Regions from separate parts of the Homo sapiens genome. Here region 1 is linked to region 2. Evidence: fine-mapped expression QTL. A gene starts in region 2. The other region holds a variant in brackets. All regions are shown on one strand. Distances are from middle to middle. Region 1 overlaps GPR137B (G protein-coupled receptor 137B). Region 2 holds the start of GPR137B (G protein-coupled receptor 137B).

Evidence for each region. PIP is the estimated chance that this variant, and not a neighbour inherited with it, causes the effect.
Region 1: its variant is fine-mapped to the expression of GPR137B in whole blood (TOPMed, PIP above 0.99).

What each region holds. Positions count from the first base shown.
Region 1 is chr1:236,198,852-236,216,168 of GRCh38, reverse strand. It overlaps GPR137B (G protein-coupled receptor 137B), which reads right to left. Exons shown (of 7, transcript NM_003272.4): 6 at 10,919-11,043; 7 at 7,262-8,119. The coding sequence ends at 8,011. It overlaps ERO1B (endoplasmic reticulum oxidoreductase 1 beta), which reads left to right. Exons shown (of 16, transcript NM_019891.4): 16 at 1-1,068. Among named protein-coding and RNA genes, the nearest start is that of GPR137B, 65 kb to the right of the region's middle. The variant G/A (reference allele first, on the strand shown) is at 8,815.
Region 2 is chr1:236,133,473-236,147,131 of GRCh38, reverse strand. It overlaps GPR137B (G protein-coupled receptor 137B), which reads right to left and starts at 4,593. Exons shown (of 7, transcript NM_003272.4): 1 at 4,096-4,593. The coding sequence starts at 4,509. RefSeq lists an enhancer at 3,866-4,369 and silencers at 4,335-4,604, 4,675-4,854.

The sequences.
Region 1 (17,317 bases), 67 kb before region 2:
ATGAAGAAAAGGAAAATATTCCTTCCTTCAATGGCGTAAGTTTATTTTTTACTTAAGTGGCATCTATGTAAGTTAGACAAACTATATATTAAAATTGGTAAACTTTGAATGTTTCTCCTGTTTTGATTCTTAGATTATGAGGAGGATCAGACAGAATAAGACTCCACACTTTTGAAATTTGATAAGTCAAAACGTTTTATTTTGACATTTTTAACATTGTGAATTATTCGATATTTGTAATCTCTGTATGTATATGAAACTCTGCCATGTTTTTCAACTTTGCCTATGTGCCACTGTATATAAGAAAGGACAGCTATTTTGATCTTCATCAGCATTGCCTTCAGCTGAAAATTTGGGAACAGTTCACAGTAAACCTCTCAGTAGTTTGCAAACTGAGGTACCTGCAGAAACCATAGCTACTCACCAAAATACACAGATTAGGTGCATGGTATCGTGGAAATTATTTGGTAAAAAAACACACACACAAATCTATGTGTACTGTATTTTAAGGAATATCTACAGGTGCAGCTTTGATTTTGAACAGAATTCCAAATAATTTACTGTTGTACCCACCAGAATCTAGAAAATGTGAATTAAAGTACATGTTTCTGCAATCTTTTCTGTCTTGTTTTTCCCCGCTATTTTAAGTGTTTCTTTTTATGGCATGAGAATTTGATTGTAACCTGTGGAGAAGGGAGAAAATGTATTTATAAGTAGTCTGAGGTTGTTTCTTATCATAATGGCAAGCATTGGCTGGCATTGTATTAAGGGCTTTTACATGCATAGTTTGGCTTTAAAAGAATACACCGTTAATCTTCACAATAGCACTAGTAGGTAGGTACAATTACTTCTCTGTTTTATAAGTAAGAAGACTGAGGATAAAAAAGGCTAAGTAACCTGTCCATAGTCACAAATTCTAGGTTGTGGAGCAAGAATTTGAGACGAGAAAGACTGATTCTAGAACCTTTGTGACATTTTGTAAGTTGGCCTATTTCCATTCAGCTACAAAGTGGGAACAATTAAAAGCATTGTTTGATTTGTATTGAATCATAAAGCTTATAAAATATGCTTATCTTATTTAATTTTTTGAATAGGTAATACATTCACATGGTTAAAAGAAACAAACAATATAAAAAGTTATTCAGTGAATGTGTTCCTGTGTCCTTGGCCCAGCTTCCTCCACTGCACACTCATCTCCCACCATGAATAGCCTGTGCTCTTGGTTTCTTAGGTTTCCATTCACACTGTTGTAGACAGGTACAAACATATACAAATGGAAAGTCTTATTTTTTCTCTCATTTTTACTCAAAAATTGACATCATATACATACGACTTCATTTTTTTCACCTAGTATTTCTTGGCAGTCTTCACATATGACTAGATAGTTTTCTCATTTTTTGAAGTAGATACTTGGTATTCTGTTATGTGAATGTGCCAGTGTTGAATTAACCCGTCCTCTATTAATGGGCAGCTGGGTTGTTTCCAGACCTTGTACATATGTCATTTCACATTTATATAAATATTGTACCTGTAGAATAAATTCCCAAAGATAAGAATTTTGGGGGCAAAGACTGTGTGCATTTATAATTTTGAAAGATATTGGCATATTGTCCTTCATAGGGGTAGTCATCAATTCACATACCATCTAAAATTTATGATAGTACTTGCTAACCTGCAACATTACCAATGTAGATGTTATTAAAATGTTGGATTCTGGCCATTCTGGTAGATGAAAATTTATATCAATGTGTACATTCTTTTATTTTCCTTAAAAAAGAGACAGGGTCCCACGTTATCACCCAGGCTGGAGTGCAGTGGTATGATCATAGTTCACCGTAGCCTCAAACTCGTGGGCTCAAGTGATCCTCCAGCCTTAACCTCCCGAATAGCCTGGCTTATAGGTGCACGCCACACACCTGACTGCTCAGTATGTAAATTTTTACTATGCCTAAGGTTGACCACCTTTTAATATGTTTAGGAGCCATTTGTATTTCCTTTTGTTTCCCATATTGTTTTGTTCCTATCCATTTTTCTACTATATCGTTGATATGTTGTTTATTTGTTAGGGATATGAACCCTTTGACAGTAATGAGTTGCAAATATTTTCTTTCCAATTTGTCATCTGTCTTTTGCTTATGATGGCTTTGTCATGAGTTTTAAAAAATTTTTATGTAGTCTGAATTACCAGTTTTTTTAGTGGTTTCTGGATTTTGAGTCATAATTAGAATGTTTTTCTCAATCCAGAGCAATAGAGTAATTCACCTAAATTCTACATCTAAATTTTGAACCTCTGAAGCATATTCTGGCATAAGATATAAGTTATGGATCTAACCTAATTTTTTCCGCAGGTGATTAACCCAGTTGTTCCAATATTATTTATTGAACTGTTTGTTTTTTCCTGACGAGTTTGAGAGGCTACATTGATCTTATCTTAGAATCCGTCATATGTATTTAGCTGTGTATCTGCTTCTGTTTCTCTGTATCTGTTTCTATTTCATTGCTCTATTTAGTCATGCACTAGTACCACATTGTTTTAATTACCCAGGCTTTAGTTTTAATCTAGTGCATTGGTCCTCCCTCATTCCTCCCCTGCCCACCTTTTTTTTTTTTAACAGTTTTTCTAACTGTTCTTATTTTTCCATATGAGCTTTAAAAAATTCTTAACATATAGAGCATACTAAAACTGTCCAACTCAAGTTCTCTCCCAAGGGTTGCACTTTTAACCACTTATTTTGTCACTGTTCTTTTGATACTTTACCTGATAAAGATACACTTTTTACTACTTTTAAATTATTACAGTGTTCTATTTGGCAGTGCCCAAACAGGTGATGGCAGATAGAGGCAGGATGCAATGCCTGTGTGGAAAGAATGTCATCTCAGTGCTTCTATTTTAAGATAGTCTCTAGGAATGATTTAAGGACTGTTCTCATGTAAAATCCCTATTTCTTTTTTTATTCCATTACGAATTATTTGCCCAAAAGTTGGATATCTGTCAAAGATTCATAAGACAAGAGGGAGAGACCCTTAAATAAGTACTAAACTTGTAAAATCAATATGTGGATAAAAGTGCAAGTACAAGAAGTTACTTTGGAAAAAAAAAAAAAAGCAGACATCTACCAAAAAACAGGATTTGACTATTCATTCACTGTTATAGGAGCTGGGACTATAGCAGTGAACAAAACAGACAAACATTCCTGCCATCATATAACTTAAGACATTATAACCTACCTAGATTGTAGTGAGAATGCACCAAAAGAAAAAATACATCAACCAAAGGGAAATGGCCAACTAGACACCCATCTAGTGCAGAAGGTGTCCTCAACATGAATGAATCTTAGTGTTGTCTTGACAATGCCATCAGATTGTCATAGATTGATGCTATTAATCAATTAAAGTCATTCCCCTAACACTGGTCAGAGCGGAGTTAACATTCCAAGCAACATTCTGGTATCATTTAACTTCTGCTATGGCTTTCCTTCATAGAATATACCTCCAAATGGGTGTGTGTTCTGTTCCCTTTAATGAGCTTAAACCTGCAAACCTGGAGCCCAGACTCTTGGCTAGTGAATTCACCAAGGAGATAGCACTCAAAGGATACTAAGTTACACATATTTAATGGCCCTGGTAAAGCACTATTTGTTTAGGATAAATGCATGCTAATCCATTAATGCAGTTAATCCGTTCAAGGAGCACTGTAACTTGGGCCTGCCAAGAGACTGGAGGGACTGTTGTAGGTTAGCGCGATTCATGGGGAAAAGGTCATAGTAACAGGAATCAATAGAAAAAGGGGGCAATTTTGGGAATCTTATAGGCATCTGATCTCCACTTAAGTTCAGGGGCAGAAAATCTGTTCTGGACATAGTCTAATATTTTGAGTGGTAGGACATCCAAGGTCCAAAAGGGCAGACCAGGTTTGGAGCTAGAGAATTAGTATTAGCAAGATGTTAATCAGTTTGAGAAAACAGAAGACAGGGTCCAGCCATAGCTCAAGGACTAGAGGTAGAGAATCCAGACTTGGAGGAACCAGGTAGATGTCATTAGGAGTTGCTGAGTCACTGGATTTAGATCTTACAACCCTGAACCCATAATTAATGACCTGGGCAGCCAATCTCAGAACTCCACACGGAAGGCATGTAGTATCAGTGCCCTGGCCCATAGGAACCGGGCAACAGGTACAGGGACTCTGACACAGATCTAGGTTATGGGCACAGGGACATCCTCAGAAGACTTCAATGTATTTTGACCCTTGGTGCAAGAGTTCTTATGTATCCTTGCTAAGGGCCTAGAGTAACGTTAATAAGTGGGTGTTCCTGAGTATAGACTAGGATCCACAGAAACGTGACGAGTGCCTAGTCCAGCGTCTCTCATATAATAGGTACTGAATAGACATTGAATCCCACTCTCTTATCCTCACTGTTCCTTGTTAAATGTTTCCTCACTTTAATCCGTTTATTAATTGAATCTTTTTGATGAGACAAATTCCCCAATTTTAGCCTGATCCTTTTCAGCAGCTCCTCCATCTGGACCCATGTCTTAAGTAGCATGATAGTATACAGTTAGAAATGTCCTTTAATACAATTCTCATATAAGATGAAAACTGGGAATGCATATTAGATGTGTCTCTGATCAGATCTATGCTAGTCTCTTCCTCATGCAACAATCTAAAGTGAAAGAATGGTATTTTTTAGATAAAGGTTGTCTAGTTGGAAATCTCGATAAAAGTTTCAAATATTTAGACCCATTTAGTTCTAATATAAGTTTACCTTTACTGTTAAAAGATAAAAGCAAGTAATATCCACTATGTAAATATGAGAACCTTTTTCTCACAGTGCTTCTCAAGTTCTAGGGTTTACTAATATGTATTCCTTTCTTCTTAATAAGGTTTAAGTGTTCAACTAGGTGTTGGCCCAGCACTAAGGTCAACAAAGAGCAGCTGACTTGGATTTTGGTGAAAGAGGAAATTTGAGGAGGCATTAGTGAGTGTGCCTTATCTAAGTAGCTAAATTTAACCAGCAAAGCTTTTAATTTGCCTGATACATTCAAGAGAGAATTGGTATAAATATGATTGATGTGTATATTGTAATAGTCAAACCTTCTTACAGTCACAACTCTGTAACATACCCTAGATGTTTTAATCAGCAGCTCAACTGAGTTCATTGTAAAAAGGGTAAAGAACCAATGAAAAATATCTATACAATATTCTTAGACAATTAGCTGCAGAGGTAGACACCTATTCCAATAGTCAGAGAAACTATTTCCAACAGTTACCCAGAAACGTTCACATGAAACTTTTCAGTGTTCCATCAGACTTAGCTAAATGATGGCACAAAATTTTCAGTGATTCCCTCTTCCCCATATACTTCAACTTTCTAATCATCAGGGCTTTAATTTCATCGTGTTGCTTTAAAACAAGAGGACATTTGGGTATTTTGCAACCAGTAATCACCATTCCTTTTCCTCTTAGCATTTAATATTCCACATAAGTAGTTTTTTTGTTTTGTTTTGTTTTGTTTTGAGACCGAGTCTTGCTCTGTTGCCCAGGCTGGAGTGCAGTGGCGCAATGTCCGCTCACTGCAAGCTCCGCCTCCTGGGTTCACACCATTCTTCTGCCTCAGCCTTCCAAGTAGCTGGGACTACAGGCACCCGCCACCACGCCCGGCTAATTTTTTGTATTTTTAGTATAGACGGGCTTTCACCGTGTTAGCCAGGATGGTCTAGATCTCCTGACCTTGTGATCCTCCCGCCTCGGCCTCCCAAAGTGCTGGGATACAGGCGTGAGCCACCGCGCCCAGCCAGAAGTAGTTTTGTTAGTGTACCTAGTAGAACAAGTAAATTAGAAAGCCAAAGGGAATTTTAATTTTCCTTACTAAGAAGGAAGGAGAGTTTGAGTAATCAATCATAGTTTTTTTGTATTCCGTGTTTACAACACTTCTAGAAATTTTAGCATTACATTTTTAAAAGGGGAATGAGAAAAATAGGCACTTAGAACATTTTTATACTATCTAACAAAAATAATAGTTCAAATAAATCCCAGTAGCTTCATCATAAAAGTAGGCTGACTTCTCTCACTTAATGCTGGGTATTCCAATTTTTCTGCCAGTAACAACAGAACTGTGTTTACATATTACAGGATGAGTATGATATTAGTGATAGTCTTATCACTATTTTTAAAAATATATCTTCCCTTAGCTGACCTAATACTGAAGGACTTCAGGACTTTCTGAAGATGTAACTTAAAGGAGTTTAAAACATGCTGAGTCTGCCTTTAAATTAACTATTAGTAATACAGTGTGACCACAATAATCTGTTAAAGCTATTTAGAATAATAGCTTATAATGTGTTAAGGCAACTTGAATAACAGTGTAGGGTTCACTTCAGTATAGACTTTTCCCTGATAACTACTTTAAATGCTATGTTACCCCAATTTTTTCATGTACTAGAAGACAAGAATGTTGTTATGTAGGATTATGCAGAGTGAAGGTGTTCTATACACATGAAAAGCCCAATGATGATCAATTTGAAACTTGAGATCCCAATTTTAAATACTACCAAAACAATAGTAGACTTCATCTGTGAAATCAATGCCCAGAGATCAGTTATTCCTGAAGATCAAAATGAGAGGAGTCATTTGAAATGGGTTGCATCATGTAGTAGGACTTGTTAATATAAGTTCCTTTTCATTGAACCTTCCCTCTGTCCCCAGATGAGCATTCCTAGGCAGAGAAGAAACGTGCCTTGTTTCTGGTAACAGTACTTCCTCTAGAACCTTATCTCTGTTTTATAGAAAAGCAGAGCATTTAGCCTCCCAATAGGCAGTTTTATGGCTCCAGGATATATATAGTGGAGTTTTTAGAATGGCACTTCCGGTCTGGGAGGCAGTACTTCATAACCTGTTTTTTACTTAAATGAAAGATGACTTACAAGGAATTGTCTGGAACATGGCTGACAGGCATCATGCTACAGCATATTGCAGTGCTATTGCCATTTTTAAATGTGCAGCTTCCAATAGGCTCTTTACAGAGCTATTTAGAAGGGCATTATTTTAAATATAGTTGGAGATTACGGAAAAAACTATTAGGATTCCACATAGTCTTAGCTCAACGGCTTGGGGTATTTGTTATTAATGCCCTTTATGGACCCTCTTATTTTCTCCTTGAATGTAATGAACATTCAGTGAGTTCGGAAAGGGGTGTATTCTTGATGTGGCCCTGAGGTAATGCATATTAGATTTCATTAGGCTGAAAAAAAACTATGCAGAATCTGTGAACATAGCAGAGGAGGTTTAATAGGATAAGTCAGCTACATTTTTAATGTTATCAACTTATCATTAATGTGTATACATTAGCGCCCTACTGAAAGGAAGTACCAGTCTTTGGGCAAAACTTAAGAGATTCCTTGAGGAACCTACGGCCTGAACCTTAAAAAAAAAATCTCTAAAGACCTTACAGTCTGCTGCTTTACCATTTCATTTTAATTATCAACACTGGAGTTGCAATTGGCTAAGTTGTCAACTGTATTTTAGGAGTCTACCAATGTGGCACTCAGAATCGGAGTGACCATCAGTGACCTAAAGAGGTAAGATTTGTGGAATACTTTAGTCCAAAAGCTTTAAAAAACTATTAGACCATATATTCTATATTTTTAAAGTGAATTATGCATAAAAGTCTGTGCAAACTACAACATGATTGCAGTAACATTCTCAAGAAAAAAAAACCCTAGTATACTTTAGCATTATTATTTAAGTTATACAAAATACATCTTTATAAAAGTACAGATTTTCTTTAAAAAGTTTAAATTATACCCACTGAAATAGCAAGGCTCCCTCTTTAGTACTAAAATAAGGGTTTATCAGTCTACATTATTGCTTATTCCTATGGGGCCATTGGAAACCTGTAACAAATAAAAATCAAGTTCTATTTCTTAAGGAAAAGTGCCCTAAAAATTCAGCTGTCACTATGCTTTTCTGAAGCTTTTCATCTGAGGAATCGTCCATAAAACTGTTAACTGATGCTACCCAAGGCTTGGTTTGTCAGGATCCAAAGTTGAGTCTTGCAAAGTTCCTGCTTGTGCCAGGAAGCTGTTAGTTTGTTGTCCCCAATCATAGTAATCTGGAGCAAAACTTAAAAAGAAAAAAATATTTCAGTGACTTGAAACATTATATAGTATGTATGACATAGTCTAGTTTAGGTAGACAGAGCTGAGATTTTTGTGTAAACTATAGATAACTCTAAAGTTCTTTTAAATGGCTCTTAAAGTCCATTTTCCCACAAAACCATGCTACACACAGGGCTGAAATGCCCACCGACAACTCTACTGAACTCTTTAGAGCACAGAGTATACAGCATGACTAGAGAACCCAGCCAGTCACTATGCATAGGAAATGTTTTCAGCAACAAACTGCATCTGAATCCTAACATGGAGTACAGCTCACAACCTGTGGTGGTGTCTTTGGACAAGTAACTTCTATGCCTCAATTTCCTCATCTTAGAATGGGAGTAATATTAGTAACTACGTCGTGGGCCTATTGTGGGGACTGAGTTAACATCTGTAAAGTGCTTAGAACAGTGTCTAATATATAGTTAATTCTCAATACACGTAAGTCGTTTTCATTATAATTATGTTCCTCTATGTAGTAGAAAGGGGGTCTTGTCTTCACCATATCGGTAGTGAGGACTCCCTCAGCTCTAAGTCATTTCTGGCAGGTGAGAGGGTGGGACAGCTCTAGCAGAATATGGGTTTAAAGGGGAAAGCAACTAATAGGAGATGCAGTGGGGTAACTGGAAAAGAACAGTTTTAAGGAAGAGGTGGAGCTCA[G/A]AATCTGAGTGACCCAAAGGACAGCTTTTGACTTCAAGAAGTCCTTCTTGTTTGTTGGCTTGCTTCCAGCTTACGTTCTTTACATCTGCTGGCTCAGCGCATTGGGCAGCTTTCTTCTTTTTTCTCAGCGACAATCTTTTATCCTATCTGACCAGGATTTCTCTGCTCCCCGATCACTGAGAAAGCATGTATTCTCCCAGCTTTTCTTCAGTACTTCTGTCCCTAAAACAAGGACTCTTTTCAGAGCTCTCTTAAAAAGTTTTCTAAAGACTTTCACTGTTACTAACAAGGAGTAAAAAGGCAAGCATATATTTTTTATCATTTCATCCCAGAGGGAAAAAAGTTGTAAAGTTGTTAATGCTAAGTCTTTAATCTTACAAAAGATTACATAAGATAACCTTTCACTTTCTAAGAAGCTCCCCTTTCCCAGGAACAGGATGGGGGTCCTGAGAGGACAAGCAGAGAGAAGACAGGCTTGGCAGGCACTATGTCAGCCCTTTTGGCTCCTCTCACCCCTGCTGGCCTCACCGTCTCAGAGCCACAGGCTGAAAGGGGAAACATGATAGTCATCGGGTAGTGGAGTATGGCTGAGCACAGCAGGCTGAGGAAAAGGGAAGGGAATCCCAATAGCAACTACCCTTCCTGTTTGCAGACCATGCCCATGCTGAGGTAAGCAAAACTTGGAATCCTGGGGTGGATCTCTGCTATGGTTGCAATTTCAGGTGCTTCCCTCTTTTTATTTGCCTTCCCAATTCACTGAAGATTAGGCGATGGCAGCGGACTGGTAGTTCATGTATTGTCTTACACCCTCTATGTATGCTGCTTTGAACTCTCAGTATTTAACTGCCCTTTCCACATTTTCTGGGCCAGATCCGCATGTAGATTCAAGGAAGGAGACTCCTGCTATTAAAACTCACGTGAAAGTATAACATAAGCGTAGGTGAGACTAAGAGACAGGGTACTTATATACAAACTGTTTACATAGTATGGTGATTCAGAAAACAAATTTGAACAAAACTGCCTGAGTTAGAATTGTAGCCTGATCACTTGCTAGCTGTGTGACCTTGGACAAGTTACCTACCCTCTAGATACCTCAGTTTCATCTGTATTATGAGGCTAATAATAGTACTGACCTCTCAGGACTGTTAAGACTAAATGAGTTGATATTTGTGAATCTCTTAGAACAGTGTCTGATACAGAGTAGATGCTATAGAAGTATTTATTAAATAAGTATTCATGAAAATTGAGACCAAATAAATACCCTTCATGTAAATGAAATTTTAAATTAAGAACTGACATCATTCAAATTTGAAAACTTGGTCCTTTATAATGTATAATTTATTCTAATAAATAAATACTACTGCATTTACTCTCTAGCTTTAGAACATGTGATTAAAGATATCATGTTCCATTGAGTGATTCCATAGACAAGTGCTGTATTTCCCTCTTGGAGATTCAGAGCACACATTAGCATATTACAGGCTCGCTCGGCATTTTCTAAAAAGTTTTTTTTCTGGCCGGGTGCAGTGGCTCACGCCTGTAATCCCAGCACTTTGGGAGGCCAAGGTGGGCAGATCACTTGAGGCCAGGAGTTCAATCCAGCCTGGCCAACGTGGCAAAACCCCGTCTCTACTAAAAATAAAAAAATTTGCTGGGTGCGGTGGCGCACACCGGTAATCCCAGCTACTCAGGAGCCTGAGGCACAAGAATTACTTGAACCTGGGAGCGGGAGGTTGCAGTGAGCCAAGATTGCACCACTCTGCACTCCAGCCGGGCAACAGAGTGAGACCCTATCTCCAAGAAATAAAAAAGTTGATTATCATTTCCTTTTGCACAGCATAACTATTAAGAAAATAGTGTTTCATGGAATATTGTTTAGGAAACACTACTGTATACAATAATGCTATGGGGCTTTAAAAAAACCGGATGTCCTTTCTCATTCCTGAATGTTTCACATAAGTAAAATGATCTACTGAGAATCCAGTCTTATACCACCTAAGGCTGCACAGTTTTAACGTAGGAATTTTCTTTTAGCTTGAATCTATTTAACTGGTGTAACCCTTCCCTCCTGATGAGGCTTGTCTAACATGAAGTAGGGTCTTACCCTCCCTGAAGTCCCTGAGGGGCAATGTTCCAGGCAAGGTCATCATCACTGTCATATCTTCGAGGGTTGTCAAAGAAATAAGATCTGGGACTGAATCCATGGCTGGGGACCATTCCAGGGTTGGTCTAGAAAGACAGGTAATCATTCAGCATACTTACAGACATCATGCCTTGCACCAGACAAAAATAAGATCTCTTTCTTGTAGGAGACTAAAGATGTTCTATTCATTTGAATGTAGGCTATATCTGTTCAGCTGGAATATTCATTTCAGTTACTCTTATGTTTGAGAGGGATTCGCCTTGCCTTTTATCAGTATGGGCAAAGTCTTCTATCAGAGTCTTGCTTGCAACAGTGAGTCATCATTGTTTTAATCCCTTATTGAAAAGCTAGATGATGAGTAACTATATGCCAATAAACTGTAAAATCTAGAAGAAATGGGCAAATTCCAAGACACATACAGCCTACTAAGACTAAACCGGAAAGACTAAAACCCGAACAGACCAATAACAAGTCTTTTATTCTACCTAACTAGAATTTCTCTGCTCCCTAATCCACTGAGAAAGCAATGTTTTCTCCCAGCTTTTCTTCAGTTCTTCTGTCCCTAAAACAAGGGTTCTTTTCAGAGCTCTCTTAAGGTTTTCTAAAGACTTTCACTGTTAGTAACAAGGAGAAAAAAGGCAAGAGATCAAAGCCATAATAAAAAGTCTCCCAGTAAAGAAAAGCCTGGGACCCAATGGCTTCACTGCAGAATTCTACCAAACATTTAAAGAAGAACTAATGTCAGTCATACTCAAACTAATCCAAAAAAAATAGAGGAAGAGGGAGTACTTCTACACTCATGGAGGAGGCCAGTATTACCCTGATACTAAAACCAAAGACACATAAAACTGTAGGCCAATATCTCTGATAAATATTGATGCAAAAATCTTCAACAAAATACTAGTAAACCAAATTCAACAATACATTGGAAAGATTATTCATCATGACTAAGTGGGATTTATCCATGTGATACAAGGATGGCTCAACATAGCACAAATAAATGTGACACATCATGTTAACAGAATGAAAGATAAAAACCATATGATCATCTCAATTGATGCTAAAAAAGCACTTGATAAAATTCAGTGTTCCTTCATGATAAAAACCCTCAAACCGGGGAAAGAAGAAACATACCTCAACATAATACAAGCCATATATGACAGACCCATAGCTAGTATCATACTGAATAGGGGAAAACTACAAGCCTTTCCTCTAAGATGTGGAACACACAGTCACCACTGTTATTAAACATAGTACTGGAAGTCCTAGCTAGAGCAATCAGACAAGAGAAAGGGCATCCAAATTGGAATAGAAAAAGTCAAATTAATGACTCCACAAAAAGTATGAGAACTAATAAATTCAGTAAAGTTGCACAAAAAATCAGTAGCATTTCTATATACCAAGAGTGAACAATCTGAAAAAGAAACAAAAAGTAATCCCACTTATAATAGCCACAAATACCTAGAAATTAAACAAAGAAGTGAAAGAGCTCTATAATGAAAACTATAAAACATTTAAAGAAACTGAAGAGGACACCAAAAAATGGAAAAATATTTTCTGTTCATGGATTGGAGGAATCAATATTGTTAAAATGGCCATACTACCCAAAGCAATCTACAGATTCAATGCAATCCCCATCAAAATACCAATGATACTCTTCACAGAAATAGAAAAAACAATCCTAAAATTTATACAGAACCACAAAAGACCCAGAATAGCCAAAGCTATTTTAAGCAGAACAAAACTGGGAGAATCAACATGACCTGACTTCAAATTACACTACAGAGTTATAGTAACTAAAACAGCATGGTACTGGTATAGGAACAGACACATAGGGCCAGGCATGGTGGCTCACACCTGTAATCCCAGCACTTTGGGAGGCTGAGGCAGGCAGATCATGAGGTCAGGAGATCAAGACCATCCTGGCTAACACAGTGAAACCCCATCTCTACTAAAAATACAAAAAATTAGCCGGGCGAAATGGGGGGTGCCCATAGTCCCAGCTACTCGGGAGGCTGAGACAGGAGAATGGCGTGAACCTGGGAGGCGGAGCTTGCAGTGAGCCGAGATCACGCCATTGCACTCCAGCCTGGGCGACAGAGCAAGACTCTGTCTCAAAACAAAAAAGAAAGAAAGAAAAGAAACAGACACATAGACCAATAGAACAGAATAGAGACCCCAGAAACAAATCCACACACCTACAGTGAACTCATTTTCAACAAACTGCCAAGAACATACACTGGGGAAAAGACTTCAATAAATGGTGCTGGGAAAACTAGATATCCATATGCAGAAGAATGAAACTAGACCACTATCTCTCACCAGATACAAAAATCAAAAAAAATGGATTAAAGACTTAAACCTAAGACCTCAAACTGTGAAACTACTACAAGAAAACATTGGGGAATATCGCCAAGACATGGGTCTGGGCAAAAATTTCTTGAGAGTGTCCCTATGGGCACTGCCATCATGGCAGAGGTTTGGGGCTAAAGAGCAGAGAATTTGTTTCCTGAAGAAGTGAAAGTTCAACAGGCAGGGAATGGATTTCAGATTTGCATCTGGATCTAGATTCTGTTCATCTATTCTATTTACATATAAATACTTTGAGGGGAAGATGGTGGATAGGAGATAGGGCTTACATGCAGCTCCCACTTGGACAGACAGAACAGTGTGTGGAGAGTCACACCATGGACTTTTGCTCCAGGAACCACCACAGGAGCATACCAGGAAAACTGAAGGAATTCACAGACACTTGGAAAGAAGCGGCAGGCCACTGCAAATTCTGAGAGACAGGTGAAAAACTCTGGTGCTCTCTTGAAAGTGCCACCTCCTGGCTGGAGGCCAACCACCTCAGGACATTACAGCAACTCATGACAGATCCCCTGCTCCAAGGAAGGAGAAAACAACAGCTAATTCTACTGCCTCCAACATCCTGGCTAAACAGTGGTCCTGAGTCTGTCCATGGTGGCAACTTCATTGCTAGCATAAAGCACTTAAGAAAGCCAGCATACTAAACATACTTACAACCAAGGTCTTTCACAGAGTCTACTTCAATCCCCTGCCACCTCCACAGGAGCAGGTGCTGGTATCTATAGCTGGGAGATCTGAAGATGAATTGCATCACAGGACTCTTTGCAGACATTCCCCAGCACCAGTCCAAAGCCCGGTAGCCCTGCTGGGTGACTAGACCAAGAAGAGCAATAACAATCACTGCAGTCTGGCTCACAGGAAGCCCCATCACTAGGAGAAGGGGAAGCAACCCACATCAAGGAACCACCCAGACAAAAGAATCTGACCAGCAGCTTTGAGTTCCAGATTTTTCCAGTGAAATAGTCTACCCACATGAGAAGGAATCAGAAAAGCAGTTCTGGTAATATGACAAAACAAGGTTCTATAACAAGGCTCATGCCAGCTCTCCAGCAATGGATCCAAACCAAGAAGAAATACCTGAATTGCCAGATAAATAATTAAGAAGGTTGATTATTAAGCTACTCAAAGAGATACCAGAGAAAGGTGAAAACCAACTTAAGTACTCTTTTTTAAAATACAGATATGGATGAAAATGTCTCCAGAGAAACAGATATAATAAAAAACTGTCACAACTTCTGGAAATGAAAGACGCACTTGGAGGATAAAAAATTCACTGTAAAGTTTCAACAATAGAATCAAGTAGAAAAGAAAGGACTTCAGAACTTGAAGACAAGGCAATTACCCAATCCACAAAGACAAAAAAGAATTTACAAAATGAACAGAGCCTCCAATAAATTTGTGATTATGTCAAATGGCCAAACATAATAATTGGTGTTCCTGAAGATGAAGAGAAATCTAAAGTTTGGAAAACATATTTGAGGGAATAATCAAGGAAAACTTCCCTGGCCTCACTAGAGATCTAGACATCCAAATACAAGAAGCTCAAAGAACACCTGGGAAAATAATTGCAAAAAGATGATCAGGCACAGTCAGGTTATCTAAAGTCAAGACAAAGGAAAGAATTTTAAAAGCTGTTTAACAGCAGATTTCTCAGGAGAAACCCTATAAGCCAGAAGGGATTGGGGTCCTATCTTTAGCCTCTTCAAACAAAATAATTGTCAGCCAAGAATTCTGTATCCAGCAAAACAAAGCTTCATAAATGAAGGAAAAGATACAAAGTCTTCAGACAACCAAATGCTAAGAATTTGCCACTACCAAGCCAGCACTACAAGAAATGCTAAAAGGAGTTCTAATTCTTGAAACAAAACCTCAAAATACACCAGAATAGAACCTCCTTAAAGCATAAATCTCACCAGGCCTATAAAACAATGAAAAAAAAAAGTATTCAGGCAACAACTGGCATGATGAATAAAACAGTCTCACATCTCAATACTAATGTTGGGTGTAAATGGCCTAAATGCTCCATTTAAAAGATACAGAATGGCAGACTAGGTAAAAATCCACAAATCAAGTATCTGCTGTCTTCAAGAGACTCAACTAATGCATAAGTACTCACATAAACTTAAGGTAAAGGGGTGGAAAAAGATATTCCATGCAAATGAAAACAAAAAGTAAGCAGGAGTAGCTATTCTTTTATCAGACAAAATAGACTTTAAAGCATCAACAGTTAAGACAAAGAGAGACATTATTTATTAATAAAAGGATCAGTCCAACAGGAAAATATCACAATCCTAAATATATATGCACCTAATATGGGAGCCCCCAAATTTATAAAACAATTATTATTAGACATTAAGAAATGAGATAGCAACACCATAGTGGGGTACTTCAGTACTCCACTGACAGCACTAGACAAGCCATCAAGACAGAAAGTTAACAAAGAAACAATGGACTTAAATTATACCCTAGAACAAACGGACTTAACAGATACTTACAGAACATTCTACCCAACAACTGCAGAATATACATTCTTTTCATTGGCACATAGAACATTCTCCAAGATAGACCATATGATAGGCTATGAAATGAGTCTAAATCAATTTAAGAAAATTGAGATTATATCAAGTACTCTCTCAGACCACAGTGGAATATAAAATTGGAGATTAACTCCAAAAGGAACCCTCAAAACTATATAAATGCATGGAAATTAATGTGCTCCTGAATGATCTTTGGGTCAACAATGAAATCAAGATGGAAATTAAATTCTTAGAACTGAATGATAATAATGACACAACTTACCCAAACCTCTGAGGCACAGCAAAAGTGGGGCTGAGAGGAAAGTTGACAGCATTAAATTCCTACATCAAAAAAGTCTGGAAGAGCACAAATAGAAAATCTAAGGTCCTACCTCAAGGAATTAGAGAAACAAGAACAAACCAAACCCAAACCCAGCAGAAGAAAAGAAATAACAAAGATCAGAGCAGAACTAATGAAATTGAAACAAAAAGGCAATACAAAAGATAAATGAAACAAAAAGCTGATTCTTTGAAAAGATAAACAAAATTGATAGACCATTAGTGAGATTAACCAAGAAGACAGAAGATCCAAATAAGCTCAATTAGAAACAAAATGGGAGATATTACAACCGATACCACAGAAATACAAAAGATCATTCAAGGTTACTACGAACACCTTTACAGAAACTAGAAAATCAAAATATACAACCCTCCTAGATTAAATTAGGAAGAAATAGAAACTGAACATAACAACTAGCGAGATCGAAACAGCAATAAAAACATTTCCAACAACAAAAAAAGTCCAGGACCAGGTGGATTCACAGCTAATTTCTATCAGATATTCAAAGAAGAATTGGTACCAATCTTATTCTGAAACCGTTCCAAAAGATAGTGAAAGAGGGAATCCTCCCTAAATCATTCTATGAAACCAGTATCACCCTAATACCAAAACCAGGAAAGGACATAGCAAAACTATGTTTATCCCTGATGAACATAGATGTAAAAATCCTCAACAAAATATTAATAGCTAACTGAATCCAACAGCATATCAAAAAGATAATCCACCATGATCAAGTGGGTTTCATACCAGGGATGCAGGGATGGTTTAACATACATGAGTCAATAAATGGGCTATATCACATAAACAGAATTAAAAACAAAAATCATATGATTATCTCAATGGATGCAGAAAAAGCATTTGAAAAAATCCAGCATCTGTTTAGGACTAAAGCCCTCAGAAAAACTGGCATAGAAGGGACATACATCAAGATAATAAAAGCCATCTATGACAAACCCACAGCCAACATTATACTGAATCAGGAAAAGTTGAAAGCATTCCACCTGAGAAATGGAACAAGACAAGGAAACCCTCTTTCACCACTTCTATTCAACATAGTACTGGAAGTCCTTAGCCAGAGCAATCAGACAACAGCAAGAGGGCACCCAAACCAGTAAAGAGTAAGTCAAACTGTCA
Region 2 (13,659 bases):
TAAAGATTTAATAAAGGAGTATGGGCCAGGCACAGTGGCTCACGCCTGCAATCCCAGCACTTTGGGAAGCCGAGGTAGGCAGATCACCTGAGGTCAGGAGTTCAAAACCAGCCTGGCCAAGATGGTGAAACCCTGTCTCTACTGAAAATACAGAAATTAGCCAGGCGTGGTGGCGCACACCTGTAATCTCAGCTACTAAGGAGGCCGAGGCAGGAGAACTGCTTGAATCTGGGAGGCGGAGGTTGCAGTGAGCCAAGATCACACTACTGCGGCCTGGGTGACAGAGCCAGACTCCAAAATAATAATAATTACCGAGTATGACTAGAAAGCCATAGGATCTGCCTGAGAGGTCATTAGGGGTGGAAAGAGACTTAACATGGCAGAATTTAAAAGCAGTGATTTAGGGGTAAGTTAATCAAATTGAGCTTGCTCATGATCGCATTACCCTCAGATGTGTACCCAAGGGCAGCCGGGGCTGCGTACTGCAGCATCGTGTGCATTGCACGGAGGCTCGGACGGGGCAGTGTGGGCAAGTGTTCTCACCCCTCCGAGCCTCAGTTGGGGGGTAACAGTACCCTCTGGGTCACCAGGGAGGGTGAGATGAGTAAGGCCCAGGTACAGGGACCCTGCAAAAGCACAAAGGACTGACAACAACAGAAAAAAGCTTCCTCCCCATCTCGGACCTCTCCTTCCAGTTCATTCCCAATTCCCAAACTGCCCCCACGACTTCCTTCCCACCATCCTCTCTTCCTCCCCACCCAGCTTCAGCCTCCAGACACCTGCTTCTTCTCAGAGGACTCATGTCTCATTCAAGTCTCCTGACGCTTCAATAACCATTCCCTTCAGTGCCGCAAATCGTGCCTTAACTGTGCTGTATGTATACTTTGATTCTCTGCAACCTGATTTTGCGCTCCAGGAGAACACGAGGTTAGATTTAGAGTTGGGTATGTTTTCCCATTGTTAAGAGGTTTCATGGCCAGGCGCGGTGGCTCACACCTGTAATCACGGCACTTTGGGAGGCCGAGGTGGGCAGATTACTTGAGGTCAGGAGTTTGAGACCAACCTGGCCAACATGGCAAAACTCCATCTCTACTAAAAATACAAAAATTAGCCAGGTGCAGTGGCAGGTGCCTGTAATCCCAGATACTCGGGAGGCTGAGGCAGGAGAATCGCTTGAATCCAGGAGGCAGAGGTTGCAGTGAACCCAGATCACCACAAAGCAAGGCTCTATCTCAAAAAATAAAATAAAAAGAGGTTTCACATACTGTACATAAAAGACAAACCTCACACTCAGACAGCACAGATGTGTGTTGAATCCCAGCTCCACCATGCACTGACAGTGTGACCTTGAGCAAGTCATCTACGACCTCTCAGCCTCAGTTTCCTCCTCTGGAAAATGGGGACAATACCGGTACTTTCTTCAGAGAGTTCTGGTAAAAATAAATATAACCAATTGCTTAGAAGTGTGCTTTCTTGGCCGGGTGCGGTGGCTCACACCTGTAATCCCAGCACTTTGGGAGGCCGAGGTGGACAGATCACAAGGTCAAGAGATCAAGACCATCCTGGTCAACATGGTGAAACACTGTCTCTACTAAAAATACAAAACTTAGCTGGGCATAGTGGCACACACCTGTAGTCCCAGCTACTTAGGAGGCTGAGGTAGGAGAATCATTTGAACCCGGGAGGCGGAGGCTGCAGTGAGCCGAGATCGAAAGTATGCTTTCTTAAACATACTTCTTAATTGTTAGCTGTCAGCCCCTTCTCCAAAAATCTCATTTACTTGGTCTGAGATGGGGGCCCAAGCAACAGTCATTCTTAAAGCTCCCCACTTTAGGTAATTCCAATGGTTTGTGTAAGAGAAAGAGGGGGTGAGCGGGAGAGGAGGAGAAGGGAGGCAGAGCTGGGTTGGCGACAAAAGGCTTTATAACTCCCCAGAAGTATCACAGTTTTGTCACTAAGCCAGAAATGGCTTTGTTCTGCCAGGCTCTGAGATGCCAGCACTCAGAGATGGAGACATGCCACCTTCTCCAGCCAGCCACCCTGTGCCCTCAGGCGAAAAGCCTTTGCTGTGGTGCCCGCAGACCTGGGAGATATAAAGAGTACAGGGCCGTGACTTTGGGCCCCTGGGCCGGAGTGGCTCTGTCTGCCTGGTCACTGTTTCCCTTGCTCAGCATTTACTCACCAACCAGCAGATGGTGCAGAAAATGTGCAGCCCGGCCCCTAATCCGGCTCTAAGTTCAGAATTTGCATGTGATTACCAGAGAGCTGTGGCAGTTCCCTGCATTTTCCTCTTCCCCCACTGCCCCCCAAAAAGGGGACAAATATAAAGAGCTCAACGTGCAATACCACCATTGTCACAGTTCTTAGGGTAACATCACCTCACCTGTCTTTTGCATCTTGCTAGAACCACCTCATTTCAATTACAAAACCCAAGTGTCTGTGCAATGCAGCCGACTGCCTGAACTGGTTTGCAGGTTTAAAGGTTGTACTTGGACAGGCAATACGCATTACTCTCCGACCGGAAAATATGCTGATGCGCTGGACTTACAAGAAGTCTGAGTGTAGACCCATTTTTAAAAGATTATACTATCTACAAAATATCACATATGCTATTTTTTAGCCAAAAGTACTTCTTCCATATTTTCAGTCAGTGGCTTCCACTGTACCAGAGCAATCCTTTTCCTACTTTGTTTTTTTTGTTTGTTTGTTCGTTTGTTTTTTTGAGACAGGATCTAGCTCTGTCACCCAGGCTGGAGTGCAGTGGTTCAATCTCTGCTCACTGCAACCTCCGCCTCCCGGGCTCCGCCTCCCACCTCAGCCTCCTGAGTAGCTGGAACTACAGGCGGGCACTACCACACCCAGCTAATTTTTGTACATTTTGTAGAGAGGAAGTTTCGCCATGTTGCCCAGGCCGGTCTCAAACTCAGGGACACAAGCGATCCTCCCGCCTCCGCCTCCACAATGCTGGGATGACAGGCATGCGCCACCGCATACGGCCTCTTTCTTTTTTTAAATAAGTGACTTTTTCTCAAAAAAAAAAAAAAAGACACTTAAAAGGAATGAGATGCCTGCTTGCACAGGGTTTCTGCCCATCCGACAGTTCTGAAATTACCCTCACCAGGTGACACCGTTGACGCCTTCCCCTTCGGCAGAGTCCTAGTGAAAATGGACATCTTAGTGCTTGGAAAGCTAATGGGAATCAGAGATGATGATGACGATGATGACGGCGGCACCGCGTTATTAAACCTTTGTGCAACGCTATACAAAGTATTTGCAAAGTGCTCAACAATTACTGCACTTTCATTAAGTCAACCATCAGCAGTAAAGCAGCAGCCAAGTTAATTCACATACTCTCCCATTAGCTTATTTAATAATATGCCCCATAAAGTGATTTTTGTGTGGCTGTAAAAGAGCCCCAGTCAGCTTTTATGGCCTTTTCTTGGGGCCTCTCAGATGAGCTCAGACAGTAACTCTGATGAGCGGCAGCAGCTCGGAGCTGGGTGTTACCCCAGCCTGCTGTTTAGCAATCCGGTGGAATGAGTTAGTAAGCCGCAGTTCTGTAGAGCTCCTAAGCCGGAGGTTCAAAACATCTCATCAAAACCAACATGGTCTCACCCTGCCAACGCTCAAAACAGCAGTGTCAGGCCCAAATCTGGAGGCCAACGTGCAGAAGACCTTTCCAGGCCGGGAGTTAGGTGCCTGGGGAGGCAGGGCAAATTCTAGAGTTCAGGCCTCCCTTGGGGGCACACCTTCCATCCGTACTAACTGGCGTGTGCAGGCGCTGCTGCTTCGCGCTGCGCACGGAGAAGCGCCCCGAATCCACCGCACGATGCGGAGCCAGGGGCAGCGAGTGAGCGGCGGCCTCCAGCCCTCCCCTGCCTTCTCCTTGCCCCTTTTGGGAATGGCAGGGGGTTTCCTATGACAAATGCCCGCAAACAGGACAGGGTTCGGACGACCCCAGAGCCGGCGCCTTCTCCCTACACTCTCAGCCCTAGGGCCGGACCCGCCCCCGCGGCTGCCATCGCCCCTGCCTCGGGCGCCCCGCGGGGACCACCCCGCCAGGTGAGCGCCTCCAGGAGCCTCTCTGAAACTCACCTGCGTGAAGTACAAGTTCATCAGCGTGAGGGTGAAAAACTGCAGGCACACAGGGAAGCAGTAGAGCAGCCAGAAGACGAAGGGGCTGAGCGAATTGGCCGCCACGAAGTCTTTGAAGTAGAAGGAGAAGAGGACGGTCCGCAGGGAGGCCCAGAAGAGGCAGAGAAAGAGGAAGACGCTCTGGTAGCTGAGCCGCTTGTGGCGGTAACGCAGCACCAGCCAGAGCTGCACGTAGATGAACACGAAGAGCAGCGCGTAGAACACGGTGTAGACGACGGTGAGGCCAAGCTTCACGTAGGGGGGCACGGCCGGGGTCAGCGTGGGCGGCAGCGAGTCGTTGCGGGCTGGGTCCCACGGCGGGGTCTCCATCGGGCCGGGGGCGCTGCCGCGCGGCCGGGGACGCTCGGGCCTCATCGGGGCTCACGGCCGCCGCCGCCCCCGCGGGGGTCTCCGCGCATCGCGCTCAGCCTGCAGCCCCGAGACTGGAGGAAAGAAAACAAGCCGCACTTCCTCCCCCGGCACCACATGATTCACTGGGACGGCCTTTGTCTGCGATTGGCAGCGCCGCGCCCGCCGCCCCCGCGCGCCGACCGGCCCCGCGCGCCCCCGCCCCGGCCCGCGCGCCCCCGCCCCGGCCCGCGCGCCCCGGCCCGCCCTCCCCCGGGCACCGCGCGCCTTCGCCCCGCGAACCCCGGCCCGCCCTATCCTCGCCACCGCGCGCTCCCGCAGTGCGCGCCCCCAGAGCCGCACGCCTCCTCCCGGCCCCCTCCCCATCCCCGGGGCCGCGCGCTCCCAGACTGCGGGCCCCCAGAGCCCCGCGTCTCTTCCCCCCTTCCCGCCCCCTCCCCATCCCAGGGGCCGCGCGCTACCCGTCCCCGGCCCCTTCCCCATCCCCGGGGCCGCGCGCTCCCGCACTGCGCGCCCCCAGAACCGCGCGCCTCCTCCCCGGTCCCGGCACCGCGCCGCGCGCCCCCAAAACTTCCCAGCCGCGCCCCGCGCCTCGGGGGATCGCACTCGTGGCCTCGCGCATTCTGCTGCTGATTGCTTGTTTTGCAGAAGTTAATTCCTTTATTTAAAAACAAATTTAAAAAAAAAACTTTACAAGTCCTTTCCGTCCCCCCCTTTAAAAATAAAACTTTACGACTCTGTGGCTATGAACTGGCCGGCGTCTGGAATGATGTTTATTTCTAAATGCAGACATGCCAAAGACAGGGTTCGTATTTTTGAGGTCAAATTTGTATACTGAGTGAGGAAATAGACGGTGCCTGCGGCTGCTGCCTCCTCTGGGATGCAAGCTGGGCTGTTTTCTCCCGGAGAGCCTCACGCGCTCCCAGCGCCTCACCTCCCAGCGATGTAGCCGGTGCCGGGAGGCGCGCGGGCCGCGGGTCAGTGGATGGAGCCCACTGGGCTTCAGAGAGAAGTGGGGCAGCTGACGGCACACGGCCCCCCTTGTCCGATCCAACCCATGCCGAAGGAGGGTCTGTCCCCGCCACCCGAGAGCCCTTCTCTTTTGCTTTTGCTGAGCAGCTCGCTCCTCGAGGCTGTACAGCGACTTAGTCTTTGCCCCGGGGCACCACGCCACCCTTGTCTTGGGAGAGCTGGGGAGTGCTCTGGGAAAAGAGGGAAAGCCGGGCGCCCTCTGGAAACATTGCTGGGCAAGCGGTTCTGGTAAACAGAAGAAACTCGGATTTCCGAGGCTCCAGTAATTGTGATTTCTTTTCTTACTCCACTTCGTGCCTAATTGTGTGTTCTTTTTCCAAAAGACGGCCTGGCATATCCAGAATCCACCCTAGCTTTTGCTCAGAATTACTTAGTGGTTACAGCGCTCCCAGCGTATTCCAGGTGGTTCACTGGGGCCAAGTGTGCCTTTGGCGTGGAGCTCCTTTTCCAGTTTTTCTATCCTTTCCCTCTCTCCCTATCGCTATTTCAAGAGGAAATACGGAATTGGGCTCCACGCCTCTGATCTCGTTCCCCTCAATCCCCGTTCTGAACAGCGCAAGTGGAATGATGGAATGATCGCTCTAAAGAACACCTGGCCACTTTACTCCCGTGCTTAAATGCCCTTCCCTTGCTCCTCATAGTTCTGGGGTTAGAGTCTAAACTCCTACCCTAGCTTACCTCCCTGCCTTATCTCTTCCAAGGTGTTAAGCAGTGTTAACACCTCCTGACTCCCCTAGACTAAGAAAATTCTGCCCTTTCCTCCAACAGCTGGTCCTTCCTAGCTATCCATGAGGGTGTAACTTCCTGCAGAGAGCCTCTCCAGAACTCTCCACCCACCAAACTCTCAGGATTAGGCTAGGTGTTTCACCTGTGTGCTTCCCTAATATCCTTGCCTGATTGTTAGTTTCCCCCGCAACACACTTATTTATGTGTCCTTATGATAGAAACTAGGCTTGTTTACCAGTCTCTCCCCTGGCACATTGGAAAAGCATCCGTATACATTTTATTACACTGAAGGAATATTGTTTGTCAACAGAGGTCCAGACTCTGATATTTCTCCCTCCAGTGTGCATGGATTCTACCTCATGATCCAGGAGGGCTACTGGCTCTCCAGACATTGAGTCCACATCCCAGGCCAGCGTTAGGAGGAACAGGGGAAGACTAAAGAGCACTTGTTTTCTCCTGTTTCTGGAGCCTTCCCAGAAAGACCACATAATGCATCCACTTTTAGCTCATTGCTAGGACTTAATTACCCTAGCAAGCTGGCTACAAGAGATTGGGAAACGTAGTTTTAGTCCACGTGGCATTGTACACAGCTGAAAGCCATGGTTCTGTAATTATGGATGAAGGGGCGAATGGATTTAGGAAAAACTAGCATCTTTATCATGACTTCAAAGCAGACAAAAAGAATGCCAGATGGCTACAACAGTTCACCTCTTTGACTACCTAGTGTCAAATGTTTCTTATCATCTTTACAATTCTGAAAATACAATAAAGATGCTCCCACTTAATAACCCTTGTACAATTGAAAAGCATTCCAAGCCAGGTGCTCACACCTGTAATCCCAGCACTTTGGGAGGCCAAGGCAGGTGGATCAACTGAAGTCAGGAGTTCGAGACCAGCCTGGCCAACCAAGTGAAACCCTGTTTCTACTAAAAATACAAAAATTAGCCGGGTGTGGTGGCACATGCCTGTAATCCCAGCTACTAGGGAGGCTGAGGCACAAGAATCGCTGGAACCCAGGAGGCGGAGGTTGCAGTGAGCTGAGATTACGCCACTGAGCTCCAGCCTGGGCCACAGAGTGAGACTCCATCAGGAAGGAAGGAAGGGAAGAAAGGGAAGGAAGGGAAGGAAGGAGGGAGGGAGGGGAAAAAAGGAAGGAAGGAGAAAGGAAGGAAGGAAGGAAGGAAGGAAGGAAGGAAGGAAGGAAGGAAGGAAGAAAACAGAAAAACACATTCCCTCTTTCCCCCAAAAGGATCATCATTTTCTGTGTCCAGCTCCAAGCCCAGGAGCTCTGGGTGATAGCCATTCCTCCAATTCTGTCACCATCTCATCTCAACATTCTGTATCTTACGGACTAAATTATTAAGTTATCCATCACTAGTTTGTCCTGTATAAAATAGTAGAAGAAAAAAATGTAAAGGAAAGGAGAATTCATTATTAGGTTGGCGCCAAAGTAATTGTGGCTTTTTGCAATTAAAAGTAATGACAAAAACCACAATTACTTTTGCATCAATTTATAAAATACATACATATGACACAGCAAGAAAAAAATATAAGTTAGAGTTGTTGTTTTTCTGACTGGTCATAAAGCTGTAATTGCTCTCCTTAATGGACGTTACAAAATTTCCCTTTCCCTTCATCAGGGATCTCAGCTAGTCAGGGGTAGCCCTGATTTCTGAGGAATCTAAGCTTGTTAATGTTTGCCACTGGACATGCCAGCAGCAAGAGGCACTACCATGATTGAATTCTGTCTATTCACCTTTTATTGCTCATCATATAACAGCAACTCTACTTCCTCTTAATAGTTACTGTCATCACAGCCAACACCATCATACTATTTTTTACAATTCACCCACTGGCATGAGGAGTCTGAAATAGCCAGGGTCTCAACTTTTATTTCACTTAAACCACACTTGAATCTCCTGGGGTAGAAGAGTTCCTCCTTGGTTACTAAGACCTTCAAACTAGCCAAGCCTAGAGGCGAAGGAACGGGAAACAAAAAAATTTGCAAGTAAGTCACTGAGTGTTAGTGAAAGGTGCCATTCTCTTGGTTCCTGTAGCCATGTATCCTGACTGCAGGACAAATAGCACGATATGTCAGCTTTGGGTTCAGAAGAAATTCTATATATTATAGGACACCAATGCTACCTTTCTGTGCATTGTTGTCCTGCAGGCACAATAACTAAGCCTACAATTGGTCATTCCACCACTGGATAAGGCCAGCTGCTACTTGAGGGACAGAAATTAGCCTACCACGTTTCTTCTTTTAGTATAAAGTGAGGTCCTTGGTCAGAGCAATATTGTATAGGATACCATGATGATGAGCAATGCATTCAGAAAGTCCCGGGACAATAACGCAGGCACAGGAGGCAAAGAAAGTCAGTCCAAGTTCAGAAACATTGTCTATTACAGCAAGGACAAATTGCTGATATCCTACGTGATTAAAGAGGTCTATATAATCTGCTTTCAGGTGGCTGTCTAGGACTTCCCCTGAGTTTGAAACCTCTTGAAAGGCTCAGAGTTGGCTGGCGATACTCATGAAAAGCCAGGTCAGCCTTGGTGGGGAAGTCCAGATTGTTACAAAATGGATCAGTCAGTCCCTGCCTGCATGGTCACTGTGTCCATGAGCCCATTGAATAAGCAGTGGGCTAACTGGGGACAGAAGATGTCTTCCATACCCAGGGCAGGTAGACATGTCCACCTGAATGCTGAGAGCCTCCAGTAGAGCTGGGTGTTTTGGGGAACCTGACTTGGTGGCTTGATGGATCAAAATAACATGCAGCTCAAGACGGGCAGCTCAGACTCCATGGTAATCTGCCTTCTTGATGAGACATTCAGTCTCTTCCACAGCCCAGGAGCAAGCCATCTCTTTCTCTCAAAAGAAAAATAGTTATTTGACAAATAAGGCATGTATGTGTTCCCAAACCCTTATAACTGACACTGTGATTCTCCTAACAGGGCTTGTCACAGGTAATGTACACCTCTCCAATCTGCCATTGACACTTTGAGCACCGTTAGATCCACGGAGTCATGGATGACAAAACAGATGGCATTGCAGCCTGAACCAAATGGAGCATCTCCTCTGCCTTGAGCCCCTTCTCAAAATTAGCTCCCTTTTGAGACACCCCATAAGTGGGTCAGAGAAGCCCACTAATGTGACAAATATTGCTTCCATAAATAGGACCTCAAAGCATTACGCTTCTGCTTCCTGTAGGAGGCGGTGTCAGCTGTAATATCTCATCCTTCATTTTGGAGGAGCTATCTCAACCTAGACTCCCTGAAATGCTTCCGTGAGGTCACAGGCCCCTGTAGACTCATGAGATTTACATGTTTCTTACATGCCTAGAATAACTGCCATCTCTGCCTTGTGGGTCCTCATAGCATGATGTCATTAATATAGTATCACTGTGATGTCCAAAAAACATTAAAATGATTAAGAGTTCTGAAGACCAAATTGTGGCATGAAGCCAGAGTTGACCTAACCCTGAAGGAGATAGGAAAGTATCCTTACTAGATGAGACAAAGTGGCTTTTGGAGTTCTTCACTTATTGGGAATGAGAAAAAAACCATTTTCCTCCAGAGGCTGTGTGGGCTTGCTGTATTGAAGTCACCACCATATGAAGCTTATGATTACCTGTTTTATTTTCCAAGACCCCTCCATCTGTGTACCAACTGAACAGTTAGATGAAAAAGTGATGGGAGTTTACCACTTCTTTTTTTTTTTTTTTTGAGATGGAGTCTCGCTCTGTTGCCCAGGCTGGCATGCAATGGCGCGATCTCGGCTCACTGCAACCTCTGCCTCCCGGGTTCAAGCAATTCTCTTACCTCAGCCTCCCGAGTAGCTGGGATTACAGGCGCCCACCACCACGCCTGGCTAATTTTTTTGTATTTTTAGTAGAGACGGGGTTTCACCATGTTGGCCAGGCTGGTCTTGAACTCCTGACCTCAGCTGGTCTGCCTGCCTCGGCCTCCCAAAGTGCTGGGACTACAGGCGTGAGCCCCTCCGTCCGGCCTTTTTTTTTTTTTTTTTTTTTTTTGAGGCAGAGTCTTGCTCTGTCGCCCAGGCTGGAGTGCAGTGGCGTGATCTCGGCTCACTGCAAGCTCCGCCTTCTGGGTTCACGCCATTCTCCTGCCTCAGCTTCCTGAGTAGCTGGAACTACAGGCGCCCGCCACCATGCCGAGCTAATTTTTTTGTATTTTTTTTTTAGTAGAGACGGGGTTTCATGGTGTTGGCCAGGATGGTCTCAATCTCCTGACTTCGTGATCTGCCCGCCTTGGCCTCCCAAAGTGCTGGGATTACAGGCGTGAGCCACCGTGCCCAGCCTTTTTTTTTTTTTTTTTTTTTAGATGAAGTCTCGCTCTGTTGCCCAGGCTGGAGTGCAGTGGCGTAATCTTGGCTCACTGCAACTTCCGCCTCCTGGGTTCAAGCGATTCTTCTGCCTCAGCCTCCCGAGTAGCTGGGATTAGGAATTTACCACTTCTTTGGCATCCAAGTTCAGGTCTGAGAGTTGGATGCGGGTACAACATTCTCTGATGGGATGGTTTAATTCAGATCTAGGGAGTTTTTATTTTGCTTTTGTCAACTATATTAAGCAGGTCCACAGAGGACCGCCCATCTCATTTGTCCTAAGAGCTCATATTCAATTAGTTTCTGCCAAAGATCTTTGATGTGCAGGCAATTCTGATTGTCAGACTGGCCATTCTCAGACTGGTCATGATCATCTTGCCTTCTATTGGGATAACCTCTCCCTTACTGGTGGTTGTGCTGCCATTGAACTCTGGCACCCAGGATCCTGGCAAACATGAGGGAGTCCATTCATCTCCAGCCGCTCTCAATAGCATCCCTGATGTACAGAGTATAGCTACGACAGTACTTTTGAGATATACTTCTCTCACCAGTGTCTCTCTCGGTGCCTTGACAAAGGGAGTGTCTTCTGGTCCCTCTCCAGGACCAGTTAGGGGATTGGTGAGTGGGATTTGCACAATAAATCCACAGCAACATTCCTATTTCCTGGGATTCCTGCTTCTACATTATGCTTGATAATTTCAGACCTCTCAGCTTCTCTTGAATGATGTGGGCTGCCATCAATTCCAGGTTTCATTCAACCAATGAACCAGACAAACAGACCCCTCCCTCTGCTCCAGGAAGCATATTGAACTAGAATCTCTTGGTAAACAAATGTTCTTTGCCTCCTACTCTGGTTTAGCACCCTTAAAATCCATTCCCACATGTATTCTGAAGACTTTTTTTCCAGAATAAAGAGCAAAGTCTTGTAGTTATTTTGGTGTGTAATTCTCCATCCAGGGTTGGCTTTATAAAATGAGGGATATGTTGGTATCTAGTTCTGTCTTTGAAGAAAATGAGAAGTGGGAGACACAAGGCAACTTGACTTCCTCAGGCAAGAACCATAGTTCTTCCAGCAAGGCAGGAACAGCCTCCTCACACGGAGAGAAAGGGCTGCTTTCTGTGATAAGGGGAGCTTTGTGCACTGAGTCCTTAGTCCCATCTGTCCCCATTCTCCATCCCCTGATTCCAACTCTTTCCAATCAGTCCCCGAACTATCACATAAGAGACCAGAGAAGGCTGTGCATTCAACAGATGTTGAAAATCAGAAACCTGGCTCAGTGCGGTGGCTCATGTCTGTAATTCCAGCATTTTGGGAGGCTGAGGCGGGAAGATCACCTGAGGTCAGGAGTTCGAGACAGCCTGGCCAACATGGTGAAACCCCGTCCCTACTGAAAACACAAAAATTATCTGGGTGTGGCTGTGTGTGCCTGTGTGTGCCTGTAATCCCCACTACTTGGGAGGCTGAGGCAGGAGAATCACTTGAGCCCGGGAGGCGAAGTTTGCAGTGAGCCGAGATCGCGCCACTGCACTCCAGCCTGGGCAACAGAGTGAGACTCTGTCAGAAAAGAAAAGAAAAGAGAGAGAAAGAAATAAAGAAAACCAACCAGAAATGCACAGGCTCTCCCTTTTGGCCATGGTCGCAAAAGATAAAATAGTCTTTTAGCATCTTCATTGAAAGTCATCAAAAGTCCTAGGTTTTCAGACTGTGTGCCTTGAACTAGAATTTCAGCCCTTGCTATTTGCTTCTCAAGCTAGAATCAACCACTTTTCCCCACAGCTCTTAAATTCTTTGTGTCCCTCATACTGCTGTCTAGCAGCATCACTCTGTTTCTGAAAACTTTAATGTCAATGGAATCTTCATTGTCCTGGGTTACCTTTACCGCAAGTGACCACAAATGACAATTTATGCCATGAACCGTCTTAACACTATCTGAATTTTCATTTTCCTCCAGCTCAACCAGACCAGATAACCAAGCTCAAATTCTCACCATTCTCTGAGAGTATGTGGCTACCAATACTCCCGGTGTCTATTTCTATATTTCCCAGAGTTCTTGGTTGCAAGCAACAGAAGTAAGATTTGGTTAATTTAAGCAGAAAAAGAATTCATTAAAAGGCACATTATGTGGTTCACAAAATCTCCAAGAGTGCTGGAGGAGCTTGGAGATTAAGAAGAAGGAATGATACCCAAAGTGATGCTGCAGGACTGGTTCTAGAATAATATCACTGCCCCTACCACTGGCTCTGATACTAGTAGTTTGCCCCACAGGAAATACTAGTGCTGGACACTGGAAATTGCCTGTATCAGTTAGGCAAGAAGAAAGTTGCAAGTAACAGAAAATCTGTCTAATAATAGATTAATAGTAAATGTTTGTCTTTCTTACATATCTGGATGTCAGTTGTTGCAAGCATTGATTCAACCATTTAAAAAATCTGTGAGGGATCCTGGCCCTATCTGTCTTTCTTCTCTATCATCCTTAGCATATTGGCTTTAATCTTCAGAGTTGTCCTCTCGTGGTTGCAAGATGGCTGCTCTAGCTCCAGCCATCACATTTGCATTCAAGGCAGAAATTGGAAGAAGACAGAAAGAGTGACTCCTATGTCAGGAGGACAAGGTTTTACCAAAAAATCCCAAGTCAGGCCTCCACCTACATCTTTTGGGCCAGAAGTGTGCCATAAGCCATCTAGAGCTATAAGGGAAGCACTCATTTGGCACATCCAGCCTCTATAGTAGGGACAGGCAAAGGGAAGAGGTTACAAAGGGTTTTGGATAAATGAATCCGTCTCTAGAGTAGATTATGCAGTCCATGCTTCCTTAAGTCACACTCTTCCAATTCAAAGTCTGGAGCAGGGGCGTTTGATTAGCAGAGTCTAGACCATGTGCTCTCATCTTAGCAAGGGTGGCTGGGAGCATGACTCCCTGGCATCTGCCGCTTCTATGGTGGAAGCTTCCACTTCATTCTCTTCAAGTAGGGAATTTCCCAGGTGGAGAAAGGGAGTGCCCGTGCTGGAAGTCCAGATGGGGACAAATACTTTTCCATACTGTTACAGATCTT